Regions from separate parts of the Homo sapiens genome. Here region 1 is reported to be linked to region 2. The links are microRNA targets in miRTarBase. Many come from high-throughput screens and were not tested one by one. Region 2 holds a microRNA gene; the other region holds the end of a gene's coding sequence.

Region 1 (3,179 bases), not on the chromosome of region 2:
CTAAAACAGAGAGCAAATACTTTAGATGTAGGAGGAAGCTCTGACTATGCCAAGGTTCAGGTTAAGCTGAATTTACTGTTTAGTATTAGGTTCAATTTCTAATTTCTAATATTTTTATTTAAGGATCCTCAGTTCCTTAAGCAAACTTTTACACATCTTAAACAAACTTTTATACATCTTAGGCAAACGTAATATGCTCCAGTGGGGAAAATACCTATTAAAAAATATTACCCTCTTTCTACAGATGTGGAAAAAGGGTAATTGGAAAATGTAACTTATTCAAGCTATTCTGTCTGATCTGGGTTCTCAATGATCTCAGATAATATTAAGCCCCTCATTCCCAGCAAATTAAGTTGTGTACATCTAGTCACTACCTATACAAATGCAAAATGGCCATGCTGAGCAGCTTTCCTTTTGTGTGTATTCAGAGTTGCGGTGGCAAACCTGAGGTATTTTCAGAGTGCTACCTCTCCAAGAGACCACAGAGTTCACCTGAGGTGACAGGGAGCACCAGCAGCTGTTTAGAATGATCACACTGCACAATTCTAACAACCACCTGGTATCATCCCCGCTAAATGGTACAATGCCTAAAACATCTTCATTCAAAGTACAAGCAAAAACTGGCTTTTTCTTTTTCCGTTTTAGGGGGCTATGTCAAGGGCAGGGACTATCCCCGAGTCCTGCCATCATATTCATACTAATCAGAGAAGGAGATCTATACTCACTGCTCATGAGAGTGGGAGGGAAATAACACACACACACCTTGGCAAAATACAAAATAATCAACATCATTTTAATACCCCCCTTCTTTCTCCCTAGCTTTAAAACATGTGATGTTGATTTTTCAAGTTTAAGTATTTTCCAGAAGTCTTTATGTGGGCAAAATACCTAATTAATCTGAGCTAAATAAATGTTCATTTGTTTAAAGACACACAAAGGCAAAACCAATACCCCTCCCTACATAAACTTCTCTGACTAAAGAGAGAATTCTCTCCATCCTAGAGATCTGCAGCAGGAACAGCATCATCTAGAGATGATGCTCTCAATTCAACCAAGCCCCTCAAAGGACCTTCTACCCTGGATAACTACCTCATGCTGGAACTTCCCTTCCTGTTACTAGAAGGAAGTAGCCTCTAATGGGGAAGGTACCCATGGCTTCTCTCCGATGCACACTCGAGGCAGCATGGTCTACTGAGACTAGGGCCAGGGTTGGAGCATCACACTGTGCAGAAGAATGCCCACTCAATATTGTTTTATGAAACAATGTTTCTTAAGTTTTAAGAAGTTTAAGAAACTGTTTTCTTAAGTCTCATCTTTCAACTATGACACTGTCCCAAAGCTTTTGAGATTGATAAACAGCTGCATTTTGCCTGCTCTGCACTTTTGGTGATTAAACCGAGATTGATTGGTAAGCAGATTCAGAGTCATGGTCCCCGAATGCAATGCAAAGGCCTGCTGGCTGGGTGTCAATGCTGGCTCAATTAAGAATGCTGCTGAATGAACCTGCTCCACTTCTCACTCTCCATTTAGCTATTTTATTTAAATAGCAGCCTTATCCTCTTTGAAAAAAAAAAAAAGGACATATCATTTAGTTCTTGAAGAAAACTGGTAATTTTGTAAACTAGAATTTAATCTAGTTGCTCTTCAATACTGTGTGCAGAAGAATCACGTGTAAAGTTTACTGAAATGCAGATTCCTATGTCCCACCACCTAGACTCTGGTTCTTTAGGCCAAAATAAGGCCTGGGAATCTGCTGTTTGAACAAGCACTCCATATGACTTTGATGCAGAGGCAGTCCAGGTCACACTTGGAAATTATCTGGCTCCTCTGCTTAAAAACTATGTGACTGTGAACAGATCCCTCAACTTCTAAACCTTGCTTTTGAAGTGGAGTAATAATCCCTCTGGGTATCATTACTTGTGATGTCCAATTGAGATAATGCATGGGGAACATGCTGGTAAATGGTAGGCAGTTGGGAGGTGTCATCTCAAATGACCTGTCCCACCTCTCTCATATTCTCCCCTCCAACTTGGGGCTAGGGCACACCATTAATCTTCTCAGAGCAACGGTTTCATGCCTGTCAGCAAGGATGGGACTCCTGTCCACGTCTTCTTCGCCTCCCACAATTGCATGGTCATGTGAATGCCCTGAACATCTTTACTACACAGGCCCTTATCACTGACAGAGTTGCAGTGAAGAGGGTCCACTGAAGAACATCTAGGAACAGCAAACTCTACACAGCTTCAACAAAGCAGCTTATACTACCTCCAAATGTCTAGTCTAAGTTGGCTGAAACACTGGCTATGAATTATGGTACTTAATATGGAATTTGCTGATTTTCAGCTTGGGTTTGGGTGGCCCATTAGACTAAAATATAAAAACAATACAATACACAATAACAGCAAATTTGTTTGTTAAATCTGCTCTTATAACTTGCTGTTCAAGTCTACAGCAGCTTATCATTTGGTTTCCAGTAGGCCTGCTGAACTGAAATATATAGCACCTTGATCTTTAAACAAAACACATATGCATTTTAAAAATTATAAAAGCACTGGGTTTTGCCACCTCCTGTCCATCCCCCCAGGTGAAGGGGTTGGAGAGGGTTGAGGCTGTTGCTGGAAATTAAGTAGGGCAACAAAACACTTTAGCACTTATTCCCTGAAGTTAGGAGGTGCTGCCCAGCAGCCATCATACCACCTCATCAGATTCCAGCCCGTGGACCTCATATAAAGTGTCCAGTATGGCCAGCTGCTTCTCCATGGCAGGGAGGTAAAGGCTGAGGTCCCTCTGCATCCCAATACTGAAAGCTTCTTTCTGGTGGTCACCTTCCTTTACGGTTAACGCGGCCACAAAATCTTCATAGGATGGAGCTGCCCTTAAAGCTAACTGCAAAAGAATAACCCATGAGAATCTGCATCAAGTCTGTCTCTCACACTCTTATTTTTATGCATGTGCACATGCACACACACATACTTTCACACATACAAACAGCTGAGAAGAGCAAGAGTAAAGAAATATGACTACCCTTCTAATTTGTGGCTTCTCTAAAATTATGTTTCAAGGGCCAATTCAAATAACTTTAAGGCTAGAAGAAACAAGCATGTACTTGGGCCACCTTAAGGATAAATAATGCTATCACATCAGGGAATGCTGAGAGAGAGAGTCTGAGAAAAGCTCCC
Region 2 (3,179 bases):
AGATCTCTCCAATGCTCACTCAGGAGATGTAAAAATTGTCTGGGCTTTGCTTACAGGGGGCTTTGTGATATATATTTCCACTGATCAAACAGGTGATGTAACCCTTGTCAAGGTTCTGCTTAAAGCGGCTTTGTGAGATATCTCTGCACTGATCAGCCCAGGGAGGGAACACTTGTCTACACTCTGCCTACAGGAGGCTTTATGACTTATCCCTGCACTGATCACTAGGTGATGTAACAATTGTCTAGGCTCTGTCTACACGGGAATTTTCACATACCTCTACACTGATCACCTAAGTGATGTAACCCTTGTCTAGGTTCAGCCTACTAGGGAGATCTGACACACATCTGCACTGATCACCGAGGTGATGTAAATCATTTCCAGGCTTTTTCTACAGGGGACATTGTGACATATCTCTGCACTGATCACCCAAATGGTGCAAATCTTCTCTAGGATCCACAGGGAGGGGGCATTGTGACATATCTCTGAACTGATCATCCAGGAGATGCAACTCTACTCCAGGCTTTGCCTAGACAGCGTCGGAAGGTGGGGGGAGAGACTCAGCCAGAATTTCACGGACAAACAAGGGCACAGAGAGGCCAGCGAGCTCCCTTGCACGTCAGCCGGGGTGCGCACTGCGCGCAGGTCTAGCCAGGAGGCCGGCAAAGACAGCCAGAGGTGTGCCTTCGACCGCCAGGCGCTCCGTGCTGGCAGCCGGGAGGCCGCAGGGGCCCGGGCGGGCGGGCGACGGTGGCGCGCAGGCGCAGAGGAGGCGAGCCGCCGGAGGGTGTCAGGCCTGGACGCTGCGCGGGCCCGGCGTTTCGCGGGACGGGGGTCTCCACCCAGCGCAGGGGACGACGCGTTCTCCGGGGGTGGGGGGTGGGGGTGGGGAGGGGCCCAGGGGACGACGCGTTTTCCGGGGGCGGGGGGTGGGGGTGGGGAGGGGGCGGTCAGGCGGCGGGGTGGGGCGGTGGAGAGGCGGGAGAGCTCTGTCCCGGCTGCTCCCACAGCCCAGGCGGCTGCCCGCAAACCCGCGCGTGCGCAGTAGGCGGCCCACCTGCTGGTACCTGGGCCGGCTCTGGGATCCCCGGGATGCCCAGGAAAGAATGGCAGTTCTCCGCTGTGTGGAGTCTCTCACCGGGCCTAGACCTAGAAGGCAGGAATCCCAGGCCGGTCAGCCCGGTGGAGGGGGCGGGGCGGAGACACGCCCCTCCGTAGCCAGCCAGGTGTTCCCCGCGAAAGAGAGGCCACCGCCCTGCCCCGAACCACCCGACCCCGTCCCAACCCCGCGTCCTAAAGCTCCTCCAGCAGAGCCCGGTATTCTTCCTCGCTGAGGGGTGCTTCCAGCGAGGCGGCCTCTTCCGAGGCCTCCAGCTCCCCCGGGGCCTCCGTTTCTGGGAAAGGGTTAGACACAGAGTAAGTTGCCTTTGATTGAATTTTAAAGGGGTTGAGAGCTAACTTTTGATAATTATTTTTAGACTTAAAATTTATTTTATATTTTGTGTTACTTCAGCACTGTTACCTACTTTTCTGTTTTTCTTAAGCATAAATGTTGACATTATATTAAATCTTCAGCAAAATGTGAGAAGGAAAAATGTATATACTTATTTCATGTATTTGGAAGACAACTTTTTTAGTTCAAGTGTTTAGTAGTTTGAGTTCAGAGAGCATTTCAAAAAGTATAGTCAGCTGTGTATCAGTGGGTTCCATATCCACAACTGTGGATAGAAAATATTTGAAAGAGGGCCGGGTGCGGTGACTCACACCTGTAACCCCAGCACTTTGGGAGGTCGAAGCAGGTGGATCACCTGAGGTCAGGAATTCAAGACCAGCCTGGCCAACATGGTGAAACCCCGTCTCTACTAAAAATCCAAAAATTAGCTGGGCGTGGTGGCAGGCGCCTGTAGTCCCAGCTACTCAGAAGGCTGAGGCAGGAGAATCACTTGAACCTGGGAGGCAGAGGTTGCAGTGAGCCGAGATTGCGCCACTGCACTCCGGCCTGGGCCACAAGAGCGAAACTCTGTCTCAAAAAAAAAAAAAATATATATATATATATATAAAATATTATATATATATATTTTATAACTATTAATAGAAATTTCTTTAAAAAATACAGTATAACAACTGTTTACATCGCATTTATACTGTATTATGTCTTATGAGTAATACAGACATGATTTTAAAGCATACAGGAGGATGTGCCTAGGTTATATGCAAATACCACACCATTTTATATAAGAGCCTTGAGCATACTTGGACTTTGATATTTTTGGAGTTCCTGGAATCAATTCCCTGTGGATATAAAAGAACAACTGTGTAGGATTCTTTGGTCATTATTAAGGGGAAATATAAATATATCTGTTCTTTTGTAATGATAGGTCAAAGAGGCCTATAATATGGTATTTTTTCTTATATTCATTCTAAAATCTTTTCTTAAGTATTGCTGCTTATATTATCATAGATTATGTAGTATGTATAAAGATGAGTAAATTCCATCATTAAGGACCTTACCGACTAGTAGGAGAAAAGGCAGAACATATTCAACAAAATATATATTCAAAGTCAAGTCTGGTAACTGCTTTTTAAAAGAAATATATATATAAAATAAAGTATTATCATCCCTTTGAAATTAAGTATTTGTGGAGCTGGTTATAGTTAGAATGTAAAAAGAATTAAGCAAGTTCTAGAGAATACTCTTACTTTATTTTCTATTTTTTTAATAAACAGCTTTAGTTGTCAAAATTTAAATTATCAGCTTAAGTGAAATAATACATAAACACTAGTATGAAAGATACTATCTTTCAACTAAGTTAAATACTTTTTAGATTGATGAGAGATTTCTTTCCTCTCTTTATTAAGGTATAATTTCCCACAATAAAGTTCATAGATCTTAAGTGTTCTCTTCAGTAACTTTTTACAGTTGTAAACACTCATATAATCACTCAAGACAAGATTTTAAAAAATCGTATTTCTTTAGAAAACTCACTTGTGGCTGGGCACAGTGGTTATGCCTCTAATCCCAGCACTTTGGGAGACCAAGGTGGGCGGTTGGCCTGAGTTCAATTTGAGACCAGCCTGGGCAACATAGCGAGACCCTGTCTCTGAAAAAAGAATTTTTTTTTTTTTTAAATTTATGAAGAGAGCTCACTTGGGCCAGTTGTGGTGGCTCACACCTGTAA

Evidence for each region. The annotated mature microRNA hsa-miR-8078 reads GGUCUAGGCCCGGUGAGAGACUC and lies in region 2 at 1,128-1,150, opposite strand. An mRNA with a match to its seed (bases 2 to 7 or 8) in the 3' UTR can be bound and repressed. Matches are read on the target gene's strand: a 7mer-m8 pairs with bases 2 to 8, a 7mer-A1 pairs with bases 2 to 7 and ends in A, and an 8mer does both.
Region 1: miRTarBase lists PLEKHA8 as a target of hsa-miR-8078. Seed matches in the 3' UTR shown: 7mer-A1 at 2,273-2,279.

Annotation. Positions count from the first base shown.
Region 1 is chr7:30,078,297-30,081,475 of GRCh38, reverse strand. It overlaps PLEKHA8 (pleckstrin homology domain containing A8), which reads right to left. Exons shown (of 14, transcript NM_001197026.2): 14 at 1-2,886. The coding sequence ends at 2,689. Among named protein-coding and RNA genes, the nearest start is that of PLEKHA8, 51 kb to the right of the region's middle. RefSeq lists an enhancer at 130-656.
Region 2 is chr18:111,139-114,317 of GRCh38, forward strand. It overlaps MIR8078 (microRNA 8078), which reads right to left and starts at 1,201; the gene lies at 1,118-1,201. It also overlaps the pseudogene ROCK1P1. RefSeq lists a silencer at 633-882.